Homo sapiens: one gene and its partners. The protein of the gene in region 1 purifies or fractionates together with the protein of each later gene. This does not show direct contact. Each region holds a gene or a part of one and is shown in the gene's direction. Other genes may lie near its edges.

Region 1 (7,453 bases):
ACTTTTTTGAAGGGTACAGTTCATTGGATTTTAGTACACATTTGCAGGTTATGCAGTATAACCACTACCTGATTCCAGAACATTTTCATCACCACAAAACCTTACATCCATCAGTGGTCTCTCTCTAGTTTCCCCTTTCCTCAGTCTCTGGCAACCACTAATATTTCTATCTCTTTGAATTTGCCTATTCTGGACATTTCATATAAATGGAATGATAAAATATGCGGCTTTTTGTGATTGGCTTCTTAACATAATGTTTTTAAGGTTCATCTATGTTATAGCATGTATCAGTACTTCATTCCTGTTTATTGCCAAATAATATTGCATTGTAAGGATACAGCACATTGTGCTTATCCATTCATCAGCTGATAGGCATTTGGATTATTTTACTTTTTTGGCTGGTAAGAATATGCTGCTATGAATATTTGTGTACAAGTTTCTGTGTGGACATATGTTTTCAGTTTTCTTGGGTATATATGTAGAAGTAGAATGGATGGGTCATATAATAACTCTGTTAAAATTTTTTGAGGATCTGCCACATTGTTTCCCAAAGCAGCTATGCCAAGCTTGTCCGACCTGTGACTTGCTGGCTGCATATGGCCCAGGATGGCTTTGATTGCGGCCCAGCACAAATTCACAAACTTTCTTAAAACATTATGAGATTTTTTTTTTTTAAAAAAAAGCTCATCAGCTATCGTTAGCATTAGTGTATTTTATGTGCAGCGTGATAATTCTTCTTCCGATGTGCCCAGGGAAGCCAAAAGATTGGACACCCCTGAACTACATCATTTTACATTCCATCAACAATGTATGGAAGGTTGCAGTTTCTTCACATCCTCTCCAACAATTGTTATTGTCTTTTTCATTACAGTCATCCTCGTGGGATATATTGAATTGCATTCTCCTAATGACTAGTTAGGTTAATTAAGTATCTTTTCATGTGCTTATTGGCCATTTGTATATCTTCTTTAGATAAATGTTTATTCAAATCCTTTGCCACTTTTAAAAATGGGGTTATTTTCATTTTATTGTTGAGTTGTAAGTGTTCTTTATATATTCTGGATACTAAGCTCTTATCAGATTTTTTATATGTATATTTCAGATATATTTATATTTATATATCATATATATATATATATATATATTTGCAGGTATTTTCATCCCACATGTTTTTCTCCCCCATTAGTATCAGGAAGAAATTCAAGAACTTAATGAAGTCGCGAGACATCGGCCACGGTCCACGTTAGTTATGGGAATCCAGCAAGAAAACAGACAAATCAGAGAGTTGCAACAAGAAAACAAAGGTAAGATACGTTACTTTTTGACATTAATCCCATTTCTAGTCTATATTCCTAAATCGTATTTATTGCTCTTTATCCTGTCCCACATATGAACATCTGCCTGGTTGACATCCTCTTAGATTCTCACCCTTAATATCCAGTTAGCACTGCTGTTGTTAGCTATGAAATAACCCAGCTTCATTCTCTGCAGTCCCACTGCATTGGCCCCCAGATTAGATGCTCAGTCTCTTGCCTGAAATGTCCAAACTGATCTCCCTGATTCCAGTCTCTCTTCCCCCTTCCAATCTGTCTTCAACATAACCATCAGATTGATATTTCAAAAATCAGTCTGATCATGTAATTCTTTTGCCTAAGAACTTTCATTATATACTTATTACCTTTTACAGGGTCCCTAAAAATCATTTCCCAGCCTTTTTTTTAAATCTTCTTCCCACAGCTTTCTTCACTGTGAACTCTTTGCTCTTGCCAACACCAATCACTTCCTAAACACGTCATCTGTTTTCATGCCTACCTGCTTAGAAGGTCCATTCCTTCACTTTTCAACTGAGGGAACTCACACTGTACTTCTACAAAGCTTCCACCAGTTTCTTCCCATAGACATCTCTTAAATCTATTTGACTTAACACTCCACTCTGCCACCTACCACATGCTTGTTTTCTCTACTAGACTCTTGAGGTCTGTGGCCCTTAATATAGAGGGAGCCTTGGCCGATATTAATTGCTGTTTAGTACATCTTTGTTGAAATGATTCTCAAGAAACAAGCTTAAAATATTCAAAAAACTAATACGGGACTTCATTTGGTGTCTCTTATTGTTATATGGCTAGATTTTTGTGCATTGTGTTTTCTTTTTAAAATGTCCCGTTCATAAGTTGCTTAGTGGAAGAGAATATTTTGTGTACTTTTAACTCAAGTTGGAATAAAATACAATATTATTCTTGATAGAATTACGTACATCTCTGGAAGAACATCAGTCGGCCTTGGAACTTATAATGAGCAAGTACCGAGAACAAATGTTTAGATTGCTAATGGCTAGCAAAAAAGATGATCCGGGTATAATAATGAAGTTAAAAGAGCAGCACTCCAAGGTAATCCATTCTATAAATGTGACCTGAAATGGAAAAGAGAGACGATTGATTATTCTGTGTTCAGATTTTTTTTGAAAAAAATCACAGGTATCTAGTAATGGCATTTTAACATGATGTTGAATGTTTCATCTTTTTAATTGACATTTTCTCCTTTTTCTTATTTTTCCATTTCTTGTTATATATCATTTTCTGTTTGATTTATAAACTCTCACTGTTTCTTAGAAACTTTAATTTGTACGTTGAAAAATAAATTTTATTTTGGATATAAAGGTAAGTCTGGTCTCTTCAACATTATTTTTGTAGGGCTATATACTTTTAAGAAATATTTCTTAAAGGGCTGGGCATGGTGGCTTACGCCTATAATCCCAGCACTTTGGGAGGCCAAGGCAGGAGGATCACTTGAGGCCAGAAGTTCAAGACCAGCCTGGGCAACATAGCATGACTCCATCTCTTCAAAAAGTAAAAAAATTAGCCGGGTGTGGTAGCACATGCCTGCAGTCCTAGCTTCTCAGGAGGCTGAGGTGGATAGACCACTTCAGCTCAGGAGTTTGAGGTTACATTGAGCTACGATCATGCCATTGCACTCCCATCTAGACAACCGAGTGAGACCCTGTCTCTTAAAAAACAGAAATTTTTTTAAGAAACATTTTTTCTAATAAATTTGTGTATTGACTTCTCTTGCAAAAACAAAAAATAATGGAAACCTTTTTTAAAATCTGAAAGCAGTTTAATGTAGATTTTTCTTAAGACTGTTTTCTGAATAAGGCTAATTCATCCAGACTATAAATGATCTTGTTTATTATAATGGAAAAAACATGGGGTTCAGGAGAAGAACCAACATAGTAAAATTTTGCTCCCTTGCCCCAGTATTGTATACCAGTTGACATCATTTTTTAGAAACAAAGCTGAAGTAGTTAGAAATTAGTGTTTTACCTGCTGTTCATCCCTTTGTCATCCCTGTGTCTATTCCCTTTGGTATGTCCCCATATTTTATGGCATATTTTATGGCAACTGCTATGAAGACAAGTAGAATAATCCTTTCTCACATATTTATTTTAAACTGAGTTTTAGTTGCTGATATGAAATAAAAATAATAAACTAGATTGTGGAAACTAGACTGTTACCTGTATTAGATAATGGTGAGCTGACTATTATTATTACCAATATTATTTAAGAAACAGTGATTATGAGCCTTCTTTTCCCCATTTGTTACAACAGAAATAGGAAAGGACATATTTTCATATTTATCTATTATTGAAACACATTTTAGATTCTTTAAAATACTTCTTCCATTTTGGTGCTTGTACGTGTTTTTAACTTATTAGTAATTAATTCTATTAGAATTAAATACCTATCAAATAGCTCTTTATATGCCTTTATTATATTAGAAAACCTAATGATAGGTACCTCTTGTGTCAACCAGTAAAATAATAAATTAAATTAAAAATTTGTGTTTAATGTTTTCTAATTATGCTATTCATCTCCTAATCAAATGGCAATCCAGGGATGTTTAAGTGGTGATCTTTTGAATACAAAATTTAACTATTGTTAATGAGACCATTCTAAAATCATTTAAATTTAAAGGTATAATAATAACTATAGTAACTAAGACTTTTTAAAGGCACTAAAAGGAGTTGACTTAATATTATTTGTAAGATAAATATAATCTTGAGAATTTCTAAAAGGTTTGTATGTTTTATAACCTAAAAATAAAATGTTAAAGATCTAAAGCGAAGAATACCATTACAAAAAAAGTGCTTAGAATAGGATAACTATAGCTTGCAGGTCCCATCTGGTAGCAACTATGACAGAAGCAAATGTTTCCTAAAATATATTAGATTTTACTATTCACCAGAGCTGGTTTATTAATTAGTAAGGTTAAACATTTCCTAAGATAGCTGTAAGCCATCCTTTTTTATTATGTAGATTGAATTCTTCATCTAAGTTCAGATGATCCTTGCCTCCCATAAAATGACTATTCAGTTATTTGTTATTAATTTTCACTAATACATATTAATGTTTGTGATTTTGATTTTTCCCAAAAAGGAGACACTTCGACTTAATTAAACAAACATTAATACTGGCACTGGGTTAGTTATGGGAAATAATAAGATGAATGTACAAGCTTGCAGTATAGTGGGAGATACAGACACAAACATAACAATCTACTATAAGGTAGGGCGTGATGAATCCCAAAGTAGATGAATTGTTACTGGAACGCTAGAGGGAACAATATTAACTGTCATAAGGAAAATCTGGAAAGGTAACAAGGAAGGGAAGAAAGTCTGTCTCAGTCCAGCCTTGAATTAATTATGGGCAGGTAGGTAAACAAGCAGAAGTGGGTGGGTGGGCAGAGAAACTTGTATAATAAAAGCACAAAAAGTATGGTATTGTAGGGTGTGTTTAGGTACTAGTGCTCTGATATGCCTAAACACAAAAGTAATTTTACAACACATTTAGAGCTAAGAAACAGAGTTACACATAACAGCATTTTGGATTGGAGTAAGAGATCCTTTTGAGACTGTTATAATACAGAACTTTGCCCTTAACTAGAAGTTTTTGAGCACATACTTAAAAAATCAGTAGAAAGTTTGAGAGCTCATTTTTACCCAAATACTAATTTTCATGTTATTTTTGAACAGATGCCTTTTTGGAAATCTTAAAAAAGCAAACATTTCAAACAGTTGGCTAACACGCATGAACTAACACTCATTCAGTTTTTAAATTACGGATGATATCCGTATTAACATTATAATGACTCTATACTACAGATTGACATGGTACATCGTAACAAGTCCGAAGGATTCTTCCTTGATGCATCTCGACACATCCTTGAAGCACCTCAACATGGACTGGAGAGAAGGCACTTGGAAGCAAATCAGAATGTACACTAAATAAACAGTCAACTTTTGGGGTGTGGATGGAAGGGGGGTCCATTTTAAAAGTGCTTTTACATTGAATTTCCCTCCCAGATTAGATCAGCAAATAAATGAAATTTATTAAAAGAATGTTGTGTCTTTAATAGCCATGCTGTTCAGTGTAGAAACTTTAAATCTCTCATTAATTTTCTGTGTATTGTATCATGTACAGCCTGTTAGATATTTGCAGGTTTTATAGGTTATTCAGTCCAACGCTTTATTTATTTGCTCTTGTTAGTTGTTGCTGTGAAACAGTCATTTCCTTTCTGGACATCAAAGATATTTTCTTGGCATTAATTTTAAACTGATTTCATAAGGTCAAAGTATTAAATGTTTTAATTCAGATTGTGGATAGTTTGTAGTCCTTTGATTTTGCAAATGAAATTAAAATGCCTTTGTTTAGATGTTAGGATTAAGTATAGTAGTGCTCTCTCCATTGTGTCTTAATTTTTTTTTAACTCACTTGTGGCAGGTCTTTATTGAATAAAGGAGGAATAAACCTAGACAGGGAGTTAGAAATGAAAGACATTTCAAGACAGTTCAAGGGTTATGTTGGTGACACTTCTTGTCTTCCAGACAGTTTTGAAAGCACAGATCTTGCCTCTTGTGCTTGTTAAAAAATCTGTGATACTTCTCTGAAGATTTTATAATTAAATAAGTGAACCATTACCATGACCTTTTATAAAAGTGCTGCCCTATTTGAAGTATTGGGTTTTTTCTCATGATGAGCTTTGTTAGACTTGGTACTGAAAAAATCAGTAGTTTTTTTCCTTCTATTTTAAAGGCAAAGAAATGCTTGCTTCAGCTAGGCATGGTGGCTCATGCCTGTAATTGGGAGGCTGAGGTGGGTGGATCACCTGACGTCAGGAATTGGAGACCAGCCTGGCCAACATGGTGAAACCCCATCTCTACTAAAAATACAAAAAGTTAGCCAGGCGTGATAGCGGGTGCCTGTAATCCCAGCTGCTCGGGAGGCTAAAGCAAGAGAATTGTTTGAACCTGGGAGTGGGAGGTTGCAGTGAGCCGAGGTCGTGCCATTGCACTCCAGCCTGGCCAACAAGAGCGAGACTCTGTCTAAAAAAAAAGAAATGCTTGCTTTCTGTGTAGTTTTTTAACTTAGGTCAGTGCCATAGGACTGACCAAATCATAAATTGAGGATGCTGTTGGTATTCAAAGTTTTTACTCATTACCCTTACTCAGTTTGCAGCTGCAATGATCTGTACTTAACCTGCTTTTACATATTATGCTTCCTTGACAATGGGAGGAATTTTAATGGTTAACTTGCAGAATATGACAGATACTTGTCTTAATATCATTCTTCCTACCATAATCTAATTCAAAACTATCCAGTAGAACTTTCTGAAATGATTGGAATGTTTTTTATCTGTGCTGTCCAGTGTGGAAGCCAGTAGCCACATGTGGCTGTTGAGCACTTGCAGTGTCACTAATGCGTTTGAGGGACTGAATTGTTAATTTTTAAAAATGTATTGATTTTAATTAAGTTTAACATTGTTTTGGACAGCACAGATTAGCCTTTTAGAGTACCTTCTTGCTGAGTACTAGCAGTGTATAGGTTTCCCCATGAAAAGGACCTACATTTTTGTTGGTTAAGAGGTTATTAAATGTGCTTTGCCAAAGATACTACCTTGTCATTTCTTCCAGCTTATTAGTTCCGTGGGTTTCTTGGAGTACTGTTAAATCCTTTTTACAAATATATATATACACAACTACTGAAGAGACTGTTTATTTGGGGAGTTATTCACTTTTATATTTAAGTCTTAGGCTTAATATGATAAAATACCTCTCAGTTGCTGTGAATAATGGTCTATAGAAGCTGTTCATTGAGAAAATGATTATTCTCGAGTTTCTGTTGATTTTAAACCTTTTTTGTCTGTCTCTTTCACTAGACTGTAAGCTTCTTCAGATCAGGGGACATGTCTTGACAGTCTTTGTATTCCTGTTGTTTAGCATAGTACTGGCACATCATAGGTGTGCAAGATAAGAAAATGAGATTGGAAGAATTTATGCTACTTGCTGCGCCTAACAAATGTGGATGTCTGTATTATACTGATACTATATTTTCAATAGTTAGCAAAGAAGGCCATTTAATATTTTAATACTGAAAAGCAGAATTGTGCTCATTTTATT
Region 2 (7,453 bases), on another chromosome or scaffold:
AAAAATGTAAAAGTCTCCCTGTCTCTATTAACCACACAAGATATAACGTCTGTAGAACTTGGTCTATTTGGGGCAAGCCAGACTACCTGATGCACTACAGTAGAAAGTCCCATAGAAGTTTTCCTTAGAAGCAGACAGATGGTTCTCCTGGGACAATATTGAACATTTACTGTATGATGGAGAATATTATTTATAAATAATGTTTCTTTTTTTTTTTTTTTGAGATGGAGTTTCTCTCTTGTTGCCCAGGCTAGAGTTCAATGGCGTGGTCTTGGCTCACTGCAACCTCTGCCTCCTGGGTTCAAGTGATTCTCCTGCCTCAGCCTCCCAAGTAGCTGGGATTACAGGCTCCTGCCACCATGCCCAGCTAATTTTTTAATTTTTTTAGTAGAAATGGAGTTTCACCATGTTGGCCAAGCTGGTCTCGAACTCCTGAACTCAGGTCATCTGCCTGCCTCGGCCTCCCAAAGTGCTAGGATTACCAGTGTGAGCTACCACAACCGACCTATAAATAATATTTCTAAATAAGAAATTTCCCTGAAACTTTTTGGCTCTTGGTATTAGGTATTAGGAAAGCCTAATACCCTCAAAAACTTTGGATGTTCATTCCACATTAGATATATGCCTGTCTTGCTTCAAATTAATTTGAGGGAGGAGGAGGTAATTTTCCATTCACCAGACAGCAGCTCACTTCTACATGTCATCTACTCCTACATTCTCCTATCACATTGTAGATGTGAGGAATTTCCAAGATGTTAGTTTGGCTGTCACGTGTGCTCATTGAGTTATATAGCTTCTGACACCAGTATGTATTTGCAAGCCCCAAATTCACATAAGGACTCACATTTTTATTTCTGAAAAATCTTTCTATGAGTAGATACCTGCTTTTAATCTGACATCCATCTGTTGTCTCTGGTTAGGTGTTCACAAACTATCAAGAAATATATAAGAAAAATATCTGATTAGAAGAAACCATCTGCCATTTTTCCTTCCATGCTGAAGAATTAAGCATCTAACTGTAATATGGTTTGATAAAGGAGGGTGAAGGTTGATAAGATAAAAAAAAATTCAACCATAGTTGATATCAGATCCATCCAACATAGTTTAAAATCTACCAGAATTAGACCTAATCCTAACAATTACAAACATAGTTTATATAAGCGCAAAGTACCTGTATATGGGGGTAAAATTCTCTCATCTCTTTTCTGATCCTAGAGCAATAAGCTACACAAGAAAACTTGCCTGAATCAGGTTCCTGTGCTCATGTATCATCTTTCTAACCAACACATGCTGTAGGTAGAGTCTTCCAGGATTGGCAGCTGAGGGGGTTTTTAAACCATGGGCTTTGGAGACTTCAGTGTGTTAAGAAACAGGAAGGTGAGGAGGTATTATTTCATACAGGAAGGCCTCACCTAAACTGACCAACATTGACTTCCAGGCTTCTGTGGGAATTAAAGCCTTGTAGGTATTAAGATAATGATGGATGTTCCCTACTATAGGAAGCTGGAGACAACAGCCAGTTCTGCTGGAGGAACCTCTTTTCCTGCATCAACCTCCTGAGGCTGCTCAATAAACTGACCAAATGGAAACATTCCCGGACCATGGTGAGTGTGGTTTTTTACATCATGGAGTTGTCCATCTGACTGAATTTTTAAAAGATCACTAGTAAATATTTGTGTGCTACCTGGTTTGTGATCTCCGTATATAGACACTGAATGCTACATAAGATTTAGCACCTCATAATTCTGGGCACTTATTCTATATTAGATGATTACTTATCAGTCCATTTCTTTTCAGGGGGCTGAATCTCAAACCCTCCCTCAGGGCAACTCTAGCAGGGAAGCTAGCAATGTTGTTTGGATTACATACATTCCCAAATGATGCAAGTGCAAGGTTTATCATTGCAACATTGTTTATAATAATGAAAGCTTGTCTGGGCTCCGTAGCTCATGCCTGTAATCCCAGCACTTTGGGAAGCCGAGGCGGGCAGATAACAAGGTCAGGAGTTCGAGACCAGCCTGACCAACATGGTGAAACTCCATCTCTACTAAAAATACAAAAATTAGCTGGGAAAGGTGGCAGGCACCTATAGTCCCAGCTACTCGGGAGGCTGAGGCAGGAGAATCATTTGAACCTGGGAGGCAGAGGTTTCAGTGAGCCGAGATCATGCCACTGCACTCCAGCGTGGGCAACGGAGTGAGACTCCGTCTCAAAATAATAATAATAATAATAATAATGAAAGCCTGGAAACAAGCTAAATGCTCATTAAGCAGGACCAACTGGTTAAATAAATGATGGTATGTCCTTATAATAGAATATTATGCAATCATTAAAAAGAATGAGCAGCCGGGCTCAGTGGTGCATGCCTGTAATCCCAGCACTTTGGGAGGCTGAGGCAGAAGGATTGCCTGAGCCCAGGAGTTTGAGACCAGCCTGGGCAACATGATAAGACCCCATCTCTATTAAAAAAAGTAAAAGAATGAGGCAGTTCTGTACTGATATGGAATGGTTTTCAAGATATATTCAATAAAAAAAACCAGGTATAGAACAGTGTGGCAGGATATGTAGTTGGCTACCATTTGTGTTAAAAAACAAAAGTAGGCTGGGTGTGGTGGCCCACACCTGTAATTCCAGCACTTCGGAAGGCCAAGGTGGGAGGATCACTTGAGGTCAGGAGTTTGAGACCAGCCTGACCAACATGATGAAACCCCATCTCTACTAAAAATTAGCTGGGTGTGGTGGCGGGCGCCTCTACTCAGGGGAGGCTGAGGCAGGAGAATCACTTGAACCCAGGAGGTTGAGGTTGCAGTGAATCGAGACTGCACCACTGCACTCCAGCCTGGGCGACAGAGTAAGACTCCATCTTAAAAACAAAACAAAACAAAAAAATAAAAGTAATATATGCATACATAGAATTATCTCCAGAAAATAAACAAAAATACTGTGACAGTGGAAATGATATGTGTGGCTGACAAAATTTTCTTTTCACTTTATACCATATGCTTTGAATATTGAAAACTTTGAACAATAAAATATGAATGGAATAGTTCTCTCTCTCTCTCTCTCTCTCTATATATATATATATATATATATTTTTTTTTTTTTTTTTTGAGACGGAGTCTTGCTCTGTCACTCAGGCTGTAGTGCAGTGGCATGATCTCAGCTCACTGCAACCTCCGCCTCCTGGGTTCAAGCAATTCATGTGCCTCAGCCTCCTTAGTAGCTGGGATTACAGGCCCATGCCACCACGCCTGGCTAATTTTTGTATTTTTAGTAGAGATGGGGTTTCATCATGTTGGCCAGGGTGGTCTCAAACTCCTGACCTTACGTGATCCACTGGCTTCGGCCTCCCAAAGTGCTGGGATTACAGACATGAGCCACCTTGCCCAGCCCCCCTCTATATTCTTGAAGATTAAATCTAAGTAGAGCCTGGACCATAGATTCCTGAAAGCTCCCCAGGAATTTCTGAGGCTAGCTAGGTTTGGTTTAATTTGTCTGTAAACTGGAAATTCCAAGAAACGTTAGATCTTTACCCCACCCCTCTTTCAATGAACAGATGCTGGTAGTGTTTAAATCGGCACCAATCTTAAAGCGGGCCCTCAAGGTCAAACAGGCCATGCTGCAACTTTATGTCCTAAAGCTACTAAAGTTACAGACCAAGTACCTGGGGCGCCAATGGAGGAAAAGCAACATGAAAACCATGTCAGCCATTTACCAGAAAGTGCGTCACCGCATGAACGATGACTGGGCTTACGGGAATGGTGAGTCTTCCCAAAGCTCTTGACTTCCTGGAGTTTCCTGGGGTTTAGACAAAACTAAATAAATATTTATCACTCCTCTTTTGGCATGAATTGTTACATATTTTAGATGAAAAAATATGTGATTATAGGTCAGGCGCTGATACACCAAACTTTAAGGTTATGCCTCAAATTCTAGTATGTACCCTTGTCCTATGTAAACTATGAAAATCCGTTTTATAAAACAAGTAAATTGAGAGATAATTAATTGCCTTTCCAAAACATTCTTTTAAATGACAGCTTTCTCCAAAAGATTTAAATTAAAACAACTTTTTATTATTACAAAGCAGTTAGAAAAAAAGATAGAAAATACAAGTAAACAAACATTTTACTATATTATATTTATGCCATATTTGTACTATGCAGAAATTGCCACCATTAACATCTTATTGTATATTCCTCCAGATCTTTTTCTATGCATATACATGCATATTTTATCAAAATGAAAGCAAGTTATGTATGCTATTTTGTAATTTTCTCTTTTAACATTATCTCTACCTTTTCATGTCAGTACATTTTCATTTCATCTAATAAAGTTCATATTCACAATTTTCGAGTTGTCCCAAAATGTTCTTCATAGCTATTTTTCCAAGTCAGAATCCAATCCAGGACCACAGGTTGCATCCAGTTGTTATATATATGTTAATTATTTTTGTTTTCTGTTTTTTGTTTGTTTGTTTTTTTGAGAGGGTCGCTCTGTCACCCAGGCTGGAAAGCAGTGACATGATAATGGCTCACTGCAGCCTCGACTTCCTGGGCTCAAGTGATCCTCCCAGCTGCCAAGTAGCTGGGACTACAGATGCATACCACCACTACACCCGGCTAATTTTTCAAATTTTTTTGTAGAGATGGAGTCTCTCCCTGTGTTGCCCAGGCTGGTCTTGAACTCCTGGGCTCAAGGGATCCTCCTGCCCTGGCCTCCCAAAGTGCTGGGATTACAGGTGTAAGCCACCGTGCTTGGCCTCTAAGCAGTCTCCCCACCTCCACCATTAATGCTAACTAATTGAAGAACTAGGCCAGTTGTCCTGCAAAATACTCACATTCTGGATTTGTCTGTTTTCTTCTTTGTGGTGTTATCTACTTTATTCGTCTATCTATGGTATTACCTGTAAACTTGAAGTTAAATCTAAAGGTTTGATGAATTCAATTTAAACCTTTTTGGCTGCAGTATGTCCTAGGTAATCTTGGGAACTGTACATTGCCTCACATCAGAAGGCAAGATATTTGGTTAAACTACCAGAACTTGTAAGATTGATCAGAGTTTGGAAAAATTTATTTTGGAGAGCTTTTTTATTGTTTTGTATTTGACCATTATTTCCATAATTGTATTTGAGAATTTTTGGTAATGACTTGTCTTTGCTGTGTTTGTAACCTGCTTGAATTTTAAAGGATGATGCAGTAAAGAGTTCAGATAACTCTACTTACTTACCTGGCAGGGAAAATACCATGATCATGAAGATGGTTTTCCCAGGACAAGTCTTATCCATTTTACTCCAGATATGCTGACCCCTGCTATTCCCCTAAATGTGGGAAACTCAACTGCATAATTTGTGGTGCTGAGGGACTGTCTTTTCACTAAAAAAGGGTTTAGAGAACTAAAGGAAACATATGATAGGCACATAACAAGCCAGGATGCAACTTCTGCTATAAGACATAAAGCACAATTATCTATTAAATTCTTGTAAATTTTTAAAACACAAAAATGTTTTATCCTGCAAATGGCACATCTGTTGTTGCTGCCATTATGAGCCCAAACTCACACTACACTTCCTTATGATAAACCCTTGCATGTAGAACATGAGAGATCTGGGAGATTTGTATCTTCAGCCCTGAAATAAGTGTCTAAGTGAATAGAAGCGAAACAGATTATCTGTTTTCTGTTTTTACCTTCATTGAAGCCGTCACCTCATCATCTTAAAATAAGCTGACATATAGATTTATCATGTGCTGGAGGAGATTCCAGGGAATCAGGAAAATCTTCGGTAATTGGTCCATTCTGATTCTCCATGTTATACCCCTCTTGCCCCTTCCTATTCCTTGAAAGCTGGCTATTCCATTCAGATGGGACACTCATCCCCTAAGGAAAGCTGCATAAAAGGAATTTAATTACCCTTTTGGGAAACATAATACATATAACTAGTAATACATAAAGCTAATAAGAAAGTGAAATAATAAAAAGGAAATACAATAGAAGAAGTCCACCTCCCTCTGGGCCCTCATTTCCTTTCTCATAGGTAACCACTATTACCAGTTTCTAGACTACCCTTCCAAAGATAATTTCTGCATATACAAGCTTATGCATGTGGGCATATGTGTATTTTTTAAACCTAAGTGTCAGCATGCTGTATACTAACTTCATACATTGCTCTTTACAAAAAAAAAAAAAAAAAGAATTTCTGAGCAGTTCCATTTTTGGAATCCCATAGACCATGCTCTGTGATAAGAGGAGCAGTGTCTTGCATTGTATGTCTTCTTCTTCCTCTCTTTCCAACACAGACATCGATGCCAGACCATGGGACTTCCAAGCAGAAGAATGTACCTTGAGGGCCAACATTGAGGCTTTTAACAGCCGTCGCTATGACAGACCCCAGGACTCTGAGTTTTCACCTGTGGATAACTGCTTGCAGAGCGTACTGGGGCAGAGGTTGGATCTGCCTGAAGATTTCCACTATTCATATGAGCTCTGGCTCGAGAGAGAGGTGTTTTCACAGCCCATCTGTTGGGAGGAGCTGCTCCAGAATCACTGACTAAGTTCTTGTCAACAAGCATCAATAGATAGAGGTCAGCTCCAATAAACTGTGCTCTGCCTACCCTGTCCATACAGGCGCTGTTACCAGTTCAGGGCTCTTCTGGGGGCTCTTGGGCCTAAAGATGGTGCAAGGGTGGGATCCTGAATCACAATAAAATGATCAACTTGCCCTGGGGTCAGTTGGGTGCCCAGTTGGCCTTGGAAATCTTTTGGTGGATCAATTCTAGACAAGCTCTTTGGTAGGACCTTTTCCTGCTTTAGTCTTGGCTACAACCAGGCTAGACTTTGCTGGCTCTAAAAGAGGAAATTTGTTATGGCATTTGACCCATGGCATTCATCACAGATAGTGGGAGGTACAAGTCATAAAATAGGGAGAAAGTTTTCTTCTTGCTCACACTGGATTCCTAGGACTTATCAGAGATTTGGAAAAACCAACTTTGAAATTAAGTTTGCATTTTAAATTTCAAATTTGGAAGCCTCTTTCTGAAATCATTAGCTCTAAGATTATTTTAGAGCACCTGCACCTTCTTTGTGAAGGATGATGATTTACTATTCCCTCAATACTGCATGTTATCGAAAAGTGTGTTGTGTAAAGTGTTTTTTTCCTCATTCTGTAAGAGATCTATATTCAATGTGAAAATTATTTCCTTGTGTACTCTGTATAGGGCATGGAATGCTCTGCCATTTTTAAAGAGCCACAACCAATATGAAATAATTAGGTCCTCTCTAAGGATGTTTCATGTTTTTCTTAAATGACTCCAGTCTTCAAATGGCTGAGCATACTGCAGAAAATTATCCTTTTCATCTAATTCATTTTTTAAATGACAAGTTAACTACAGGAGGCTTTATTTATTCAGATGGTATGTCCACTTGTGGTCGTGATCAATATATTTTTCTAATTGAAAAG
Region 3 (8,328 bases), on another chromosome or scaffold:
TGTTCATTGGTTCTTTGCCAAGCAAAATTGCACATGAGAATTTTTCTAGTGAGCTCGTTCAAGTGAGTCCTTCTAAACAGCCTGATGTTCCCTGGTGTGAGCCCCCAGAACTGCAGCAGAGAGCATGTGCAACAAAGAGCCCCCTTGGAGGCTCAACCCCCAACTCCCCTGGTAAATTGCACCTCCCAACACAGGGGAGGAGGCAGTGGGGGAGAAAGATGGATCTTGTTTAAATCTTTTGCCTGAACTGAGTATGGATAGGCCTGCAAAATATTCTGAACCCTTTTCTGGCAGATTTTTGTCACGTGTTCCAGATGATTTCTTTTAATCAGGAATATTTTATCAAGCAAACACCTATGCATTCTCTGTTTCTGCTCTCAGTTGTACAGTGATTGGAGACTAGTGTTCTGGTTTCTATGCAAGATAAAGTTTAAGGCCTACACCCAAGGAAATATGAAGCAATGCTTATTAGCAGAAGTGTGCAATGTGAAGTGCGCAGAAAGGTCCACAGGCCTTGGCAAGGGAGAAGGAAGCTCTCATTCCTGAAGCTGAGCCTGGAAGACCCAGCTAAAGGGGGGCTGACCAGACACACATTTGCAGAAAAGGAGGTGTGTTACGGGCTGACTTGTGTCCCTCCAAAATTCCTATGCTGAAGTCCTAATTCCTAGTACCTTAGAATGTGGCTGTATTTGGAGATAGGAACTTTAATAAGGTAACTAAGCAAAAATGAAGTAATTGGGATGAGCCTTAATCCAGTACGACTCCGGTATCTTTCTAAAAACAAAGAATTAGGGCCAGGCGTGGTGCCTCACACACTCTGGGAGGCCAAAGTGGGCAGATCACTTGAGGCCAGGAGTTCGAGACCAGCCTGGCCAACATGGTGAAACCCCGTCTCTACTAAAAATACAAAAATTAGCCGGGTGTGGTGGCGCTCGCCTGTAGTCCCAGCTACCAGGGAGGCTGAGGCAAGAAAAATGCTTGAACCTGGGAGACAGCGGTTGCAGGGAGCCGAGATCTCACCACTGCACTCCAACCTGGGCAACAGAGCGAGACTCCATCTCAAAATAAATAAATAAATAAATAAATAAATAAATAAATAAATAATAAAAACAGGAAATTAGGACACAGGAACACACAGTGAAGACCACGAGAACACAGAGGGAGAAGCTGGCCGCTACAAGCCCGAGAGAGGCCTCGGAAGAAACCAATCTTGCTGACACCTTCATCTTGGACTTCCAGCCTCCAGAATGGTGAGGAAATAAATTTCTGTCGTTTTGGCCATCCAGTTGGTGGTTCTTTGTTACGGCAGCCCTAGCAAACTAAGGCAGGGTGCAACTGAAAACCTACTTAGGGTGATATCCCTGCAAGAGCCTGCCCTCTGAGCTCTCCACGCACAGAATGAAACCTTATTGGTACCATTCCTCAATGTAGCTGGGATATTTTTCTGGGGCTTTGGCATACCTTTTCTTGCTATTGTGTCATCCAACAATGACTAGACATTCTTCTTTAAACTGATCTTGATAATTTGTCTTCACCTACTGAACATGTGTAGAAATTTGTCTAAGCCTTCTGTTAGTTACTTATCCAAGCTACTCCTATTTCTCCCTTTAAAGTTCACCATGTAAGTCCCTTTCTTTAATCTCTGAATTTAAATTGCTAATGCTCTACTTGTCTAGCTGTTCTTTATAAAGCAGCATTTGGGGGTGTTTATCTTTTCAACTTAGAAAGAAAAGTGAAGGGATTGATTGTGGAATTCTTGTTTTCTGTTCCTCTCTGAGCTCTGCTGAGAGTGCGTACAAACTAGCTTAGGGGCAGCAAATACATAGGGGCTTTATATTTGGAGGGGCTCCATATAGGGGTATGGAAATATTCTTTGTGGTCCAGAATATATTTCAGATCATAATTCATTGCCAGACTGATGTCCTTAAGTGAACACAAAAGACAAAGAGGACCAGGGAAGAAAAATAATTCAATGGATAAAGTAAATAACTCAATGGGTTAGTATCTCCATGGAGACCATAAAATGCATCATCTCTATGGAGACTCTCATAATCTCCTTCTGGACTTACGGTAGTGTATAACCTGTTGTAATCATACATTGGGGGTGGAGGGAAAGTGACAAGAGGAAGAGGGTGAGAGGATGATCCTTTTCTTTCCTTGGTGGAAATGATAGCTATTGCCACTCTAAGTTTAATCAATTATGGTATTGTATTCATCCAAAGTTAGGATTCTGGGAGACCAGGTCCCTAGGATGGGTTAAGAGGCACCTGAGGATCTAATGTTTATATGCCCAGTACTGAACTGGGTATCTGACATGTATTAATAGTTGGTATTCAAAAAAGGTGTGAATGAATGAACATAATAGGCAATTGCACCGGATCTGATCCCGGGCTCAGGCCCTGTGCATCATCTCTGTTGTGCAAAAACAAATAAGGTGGAGACCTACTTCTGCCATGGGGAATACTCGGTACTACCTGCATAGGGCCAAGGAGAACCAGTAACTCCCATGTTGCTTCCTTCCCTTCTTTCGATAAGAATGGTGCTCAACAGTATGAACATTGTCAAAGGATGAAACAATGGTCAGTGTGGAGAGAAGATAAACAGGGTTCGGGGCAACAGACCAGCTAATGGATGCAAGTCACTGTGTCCAGAGAAGTTACATCCTGCCGGAATCTCCCTGTTTTGAGCCTCACTAGCCTCAGGACACAAACTAGGATTCCGGTTATTTTTTTATACCCAGGGTACTATGGGCCTTTGTCCCCCATCTGCTGTGACTTATTTGCTGGCAATTAGCCCACTGCAAAGTGATTTCTGAGCATTTACCATGGTAATGTCTCAGATCAGCATCCAGACATTTCCATCCATTCATCTAGTTTCTTGCTCTTTATCTTGGTGCCAGGTTATTGCCCTGGCTCTGCTGACCCTAGAAGAATATTTTTACTGTCCCTTTTCTATGCTTAGACATGTTTAGATCCACAAATATTTACCATTGTGTTATAGTTGCCTCCAGTATTGAGTTCAGTCACATGCTGTTCAGGTTTGTGGTCCAGGTGCAATACGTCATACCATATAGCCTAGGTGTGTAGTAGGCTATGCCATCTAGGTTTCTGGAAGTACACTCTATGATGCTCACGTGACAAAATCAACTAAGAACACATTTCTCAGAATGTATACCCATTGTTAAGCAATACATGACTGTGTGTCTGTAGGCCATATATATTAATATATATATAGTCATTTGAGATCAGTCTATATACAGTGTTTTGTACCCTGTATTTTCTTTAATAATATATAATGAATACATTTTCCCCATTACTAGGTACTGAAAGACATAATTTTAAATGACTACATAGTACTCGTATGAAAATGCTATTATTTACTTAACCTCTGTGAGACTTTTTGGCTGTTCCGTTTCCCCAGGATTCTAAACATCACTGTGTCTTCTTACATGCATTCTTCCACACTTCTTGGTTGTTGCCTTAGGATATGTTACTTTAGGTAGAATTCCTGGGCTGCGCTGAAGAATAGAAACATTTTAAAGATTCACATTCTTGCTTGTTTTGCTGTTCGCCTCTTTAGGTACCATATTTTTTAGGTGTACAAAATTTATACACCTGATTTTAAGTTCCTGGGTATCAGGGTTCATACTTCTCTTAATTTTGTATTTCCTTGCAGTCCTACTTACGGGTGGCAGGGCTCCTCAAGGGATGGGTGTACCAATGACAACCATGAAAGTATTCTAAGGTATTCCCTAGGACTCCGAGAAAAAACATGCATCTTTCCAAAGGGAAAGAAGGGATTAGATGTTAGCATCCTACTCCATGTCAGATCCAGAGCACCCGGGGGAACTGAAGTTCGTGGATGGAATACAATGACACCTCAGAAAAGAAATACTCCTTTGGTGGAGGCCTTTAAACTTTTGGGGGCTCATTTTGTCTGCCTAACTCGCCCAGCCAGGGCGCAAAATGGCCACTTAGGAGCATGAGTGAGGTGCCAGCGTCCCTACAATCTAAGGAGCAGGGAGTCATCACTGGGGTGGCTGCCGCTCTACCTGTTTGCGACTGTAATAAAACACCTTCTGGAGGCCGAGGGACCCGCTTCATCCTGACTTTTCCCCTCAGTAGCTAGAGAGAAGGCGGCTGAAAAGAGGAGACAGAACTGGTGCTGAGTGGGCCTGGAGCTTCCGAGGCAAGGGAAAGAGGGAGAGGGCTGCAGTTCAAAGTCCAGACGCGCTTTCCTTCCATTCTCTTCCCTTCCTCCCTGCCCTCTGCGCCCCATTTTCCCCTTATCGTGGGTGGGGGCTTCTGATTTGCTGCGGATCCCAGAGATGGTGGGGTTCAGCCTCCGCACTGCTTAGCTAAGTTCCCAGCCCAGCAGTCCCAGCCGGGCTGTTTTCGGTAACCAAAGCACTAGGAATTAACCTCTCTCTCGGCCTCTTCCCTTTCGGTTTCCTTCTTGGGTTGGCTGGAAACTTCACCCAGACACCGAAGCAGCTCTGCCCGGCCTTTTGGCACAGGCCACCGGCCGAGGCCCCACGGGGCGCTCTCCTTCCCCAGGTGCCCCCGACTCCGATCCTGCCCTCAGGGGCTCGCCCGGGACGCGTTTTCCCAGAGGCCGCCGGGGCGGGGTGGGCTGGCTGGCGGGAAGAGGGGGCCGCGGCCCAGGCTCGCCCCGGCGCCGGCCCGGTGGGCACGCGGCCAGCCTCCGGCCCCGACTCGGTCCCTCCCGGCGCCCGCCCCAGCCGAGGCCCCCTCCCGGCCCCGCCGCCCGCCCGCGGGGGCGTGGGAGCGCCGCAGGAGCAGCTGGGACCCGGGCCGGGCCGACAGGCGGCGGCTGCGGCCTAGGGCTCCCGCGCGGCCACCGGCCTCTCCCCTCCCCCTCCCGGAAGCGCGGGGCGGGGTCCCCGGCCGGGCCGTGGGGGCGGGCGCGGGGGCCGGGCCGGGGCGGGACGCGCTCGGCGCTCGCGGGCTCGGCGGGCTGTGCGCGCCCACTCCGGCTCCAGCGGCCAGCGCGCGCGGGCCCAGGCCGCCCGGCTCCAGCCCAGCAGTAGCGGCAGCAGCGGCGGCGGCGGCAGTGCGCGCGAGGCCCTGCGCCCCCAGCAGCTCCTCCCTGGCGCCGTGCATGGAGACGCGGCCCGCCACCCGCCGCTGAGCCCCCGCCGCCCGGCCGGGACCCGCCAGGGCTGGGGTGGCCTCGGGCTCCGGCCGGCCCCGCCGCCCGAGGGCTGCGCGCGGCCCGCGGGCCTCGCCGCCCCGCGCGGATCGTCGCGGCCCGGCCGTCCCGTCCCAGGAAGTGGCCGTCCTGAGCGCCATGGCTCACTCCCCGGTGCAGTCGGGCCTGCCCGGCATGCAGGTAGGCGGGCGCGGGCCGCGGGGCCGGGATGCGCGACCGGGGCGGAAGCAGCAACTTGGCGGTATCCACACGGCGTCCCCCTACGCTCAGCCGGCCGGGGTCGCGCCGGAGCCTGGCTCCCCGCGCGCCCGGCTCGGCCGGGGGTCCGAGTCCGAGTCCCTGGGCGTCCCTGCCGGCTCCGGCGGCCGAGGTCTCCGGCGTGTGCGTGCAGGAGCCGTAGGAACCGCGGCCTGGGTCCGGATGTGGGGGTGCGGGCGCCTAGTCCTCCGCGCTCCCCTCGCCCCAACACTCTTCCGGAGCTGCAGGCCCTGGGTGGCCCTGTCCCCGGGAGAAGTGAGGTGGAGTGATGCCCTTGGAGGCCCCCGCCGGGTCCCGGGGCCCTGCGTGGTGGCCGGGTTGGCGGAGGGCCCCAGGACGCGTCCCCCAGGCTCGTCCCCCACCCCCGGGCAGGCGGGCGGGAGACCTGGGCAGGGCGGGGACGGGGAGCGCGCCTGGACTCGTCCGGGCCCGAGCGGAGTAGGCAGGGTGGAGTGGAGGAAGGTAACCGCGAGTTCCACTTGCAGTGGCTTTGCCCGGAGCCCCCGTGCACCTGCGGACCGGGGGAAAGTGCGAGTTGCAAACCTTCTGGAAGGAGGAATCCCTCGGACAGCCGCGCACCAGGGTCCCGGGCCCGGCCCCGGGACCCTGGACTTTCACTTTGAGACTTGGTTGCATTTACAGGAATTCTTCGCCCAGTAAACCTCTCTTTCGGTACTTGGTGACACCTTGGCCTACCAGTGACTTTTTGGGGAGTGGGAGAGGAGTTGAATTTCAAATTTACATGTATAAGTTAAAGGTTTTTTGTTGTTGTTGTTTTCGTTGTCGTTGCTTTTAGCCCTTTGAAAAACAAAGCTACCGTCCTTGGCTAACTCTTGTAAACTTTGTAGGCGCAGAAATGGTGGCAAAATGCTTAGGATGGAAATCTTAGGATGCAGTTAGGATATGTCATGAAAGTTTGCTCTGCCAGTTTAGCTGAGTGAACGTTAAGTGTTTGAAGAAAACCAAAAGCATCCAAGTAGATTACTGGTTGATTTACAGGTACCAACAGGCTCCTTCCCTGTGTCTTGAGGGCTGAGAAGCACAGAGCCCAGACCTGGGACTGCCTCTGGGGTCTGCTCGCCTCTTCCAGTGAGATCATCCCTCTCCCTTCTTTTTTTGAAACCGTAAAAAGAAAACTGGATTTCACTGTTCAGGTTTGAATTCTGGAAAAATAGGAACTCAAAGTTACCACTTTAATGGCAGCTAGAATTTTAGTCCAAGTGTGTGTGTGTGTATATGTGTGTGTGTGTGTGTGTGTGTATATATAAGCAGTATATATATGTGTGTATATATGTTTAAGCAGTAAATAAATATACATTTAAGCAGCAACAGTTAAGTTATTATCTTAAGAGTGACTGGGAAGATGCTTGAAGAATATTCTTTTGTCGACTCTCATTTAAGGAGCGTTGAATTTAGCATGCATTCAAAACCTAAACTTCTGCTGACTGCTGGGTAACAATCAGATGTGGTTTCTTGGTATTTTCTAAAGCCGCTTTGGTATGAATTTAGAGGTGTGTAGGTCAGAGTGAACTGGGTGAAAAAAGTAATTTCTTACTAGTCGAGCAAGAAAGGACTCTTGTAATGATTTAAAAAAAAAGTTTTATCAATATTTCCTTTAGGTTGATATTTATACCGTGTTCATCAGGTTGGAATCTAGCACAAATGCCTCACTTACTAGGTTAATTGGCCTTTGTGGATAGCGAATCAGTTTGAAAAGGTACTAAAGCCCCTTTGGCTGGTGCCGTGAAGTCAGTATCAGATGGTTACCAGGTGATATCTAGTATCTCACCTTTTCATTTTTATCCTCACTTTTTTTTTTGAGTGGGTCAGAATTCTTAAACCTTGGGAAAAGAAGATACATTTCCTTAATAACTTTGCCTCTCAACTATTATGTATCTGTTAGGTTGTGTTACATGGGAACTGTTTTTATTTTGTTTTCTCAGTATGAAAGATCTTAAGTGTTTCTCAGTGGAAAAGATGATCAGATTTTCAGCTGTTACAGTTTTACAGTTTTAGAGGTAGGTAAGTTGGCTTCTGCCAGTCATTCCTGTACCTAAGTACATCTACAGACTGTATGGTAACAGTGTATCATTTGGGGAAGAACATTCTTTTCTCCTCCCCCACCCCACAAAAGAAAAACAACAGCACATTTATTTTCTACTTCAAATTAGCAGTTGCTACTGCCCTGGGAGGCTTCCCTAAGAGTTGTTGCTGAAGATTCAATTAAAAACACACCTGCTTTCGACTGTTGTCTGCTAAATGGGAGGAGAGAAGTCCGTATCTCTTCTATGGCTTGCTCTGATAGGCCTCATAGCCCTCCCTTTTTCTTGTCTCCTGACCAGGGCTTATAAGGAGTTGGCTTAGAAAGACAGCAGAGTCTGTAATCTCAGCAGTTTGAGAGGCCGAAGTGGGCGGATCATGAGGTCAGGAGATCGAGACCATCCTGGCTAACATGGTGAAACCCTGTTTCTACTAAAAATCCAAAAAATTAGCTGGGCGTGGTGGCACACGCCTGTAATCCCAGCTACTCGGGAGGCTGAGGCAGGAGAATCACTTGAACCCGGGAGGCGGAGGTTGCGTTGAGCTGAGATTGTGCCGTTGCACCCCAGCCTGGGCGACAGAGGCAGACTCCGTCTCAAAAAAAAAAATAAAATAAAAAAATAAAGCAGAGTGAATTCAGGTGGCCTAGGCAAGGATGCTTGAAAAATAACAACCATGTTAGTATAAACACCATTTTTCAATGTTTTGCAAATCATTTTTATGCCTCTTGATTCTTACCGGTACCGTTTGAGATGTAGATGATATTATACCATTTTGTAGATGTGGAGACCAAGGAAGACTTAACTGACCAAGGTGAGATCATATATTATGTGGCAAATTTGTGATTGGAAACTACTA

What was found.
Region 2: the proteins of FGFR1OP2 (region 1) and STRIP2 purify together in Homo sapiens (affinity purification with mass spectrometry; 2 studies listed by BioGRID and IntAct, with this or other methods). This does not show direct contact.
Region 3: the proteins of FGFR1OP2 (region 1) and STK24 purify together in Homo sapiens (affinity purification with mass spectrometry; 4 studies listed by BioGRID and IntAct, with this or other methods). This does not show direct contact.

Annotation. Positions count from the first base shown.
Region 1 is NC_000012.12:26,955,357-26,962,809, forward strand, and holds part of FGFR1OP2 (FGFR1 oncogene partner 2), read left to right. Parts: intron 1-1,186; coding exon 1,187-1,304; intron 1,305-2,244; coding exon 2,245-2,387; intron 2,388-5,158; coding exon 5,159-5,272; coding exon of another isoform or gene 5,273-5,281; exon of another isoform or gene 5,282-5,395; intron 5,396-7,453. UniProt on the Homo sapiens protein: May be involved in wound healing pathway.
Region 2 is NC_000007.14:129,479,286-129,486,738, forward strand, and holds part of STRIP2 (striatin-interacting protein 2), read left to right. Parts: intron 1-1,215; coding exon of another isoform or gene 1,216-1,296; exon of another isoform or gene 1,297-1,499; coding exon 1,500-1,604; intron 1,605-3,556; coding exon 3,557-3,761; coding exon of another isoform or gene 3,762-3,784; exon of another isoform or gene 3,785-4,346; intron 4,347-6,293; coding exon 6,294-6,544; 3' UTR 6,545-7,453. UniProt on the Homo sapiens protein: Plays a role in the regulation of cell morphology and cytoskeletal organization. Required in the control of cell shape. Calmodulin-binding scaffolding protein which is the center of the striatin-interacting phosphatase and kinase (STRIPAK) complexes.
Region 3 is NC_000013.11:98,573,769-98,582,096, reverse strand, and holds the start of STK24 (serine/threonine-protein kinase 24 isoform b precursor), read left to right. Parts: upstream 1-4,989; 5' UTR 4,990-5,310; coding exon 5,311-5,352; intron 5,353-8,328. UniProt on the Homo sapiens protein: Serine/threonine-protein kinase that acts on both serine and threonine residues and promotes apoptosis in response to stress stimuli and caspase activation.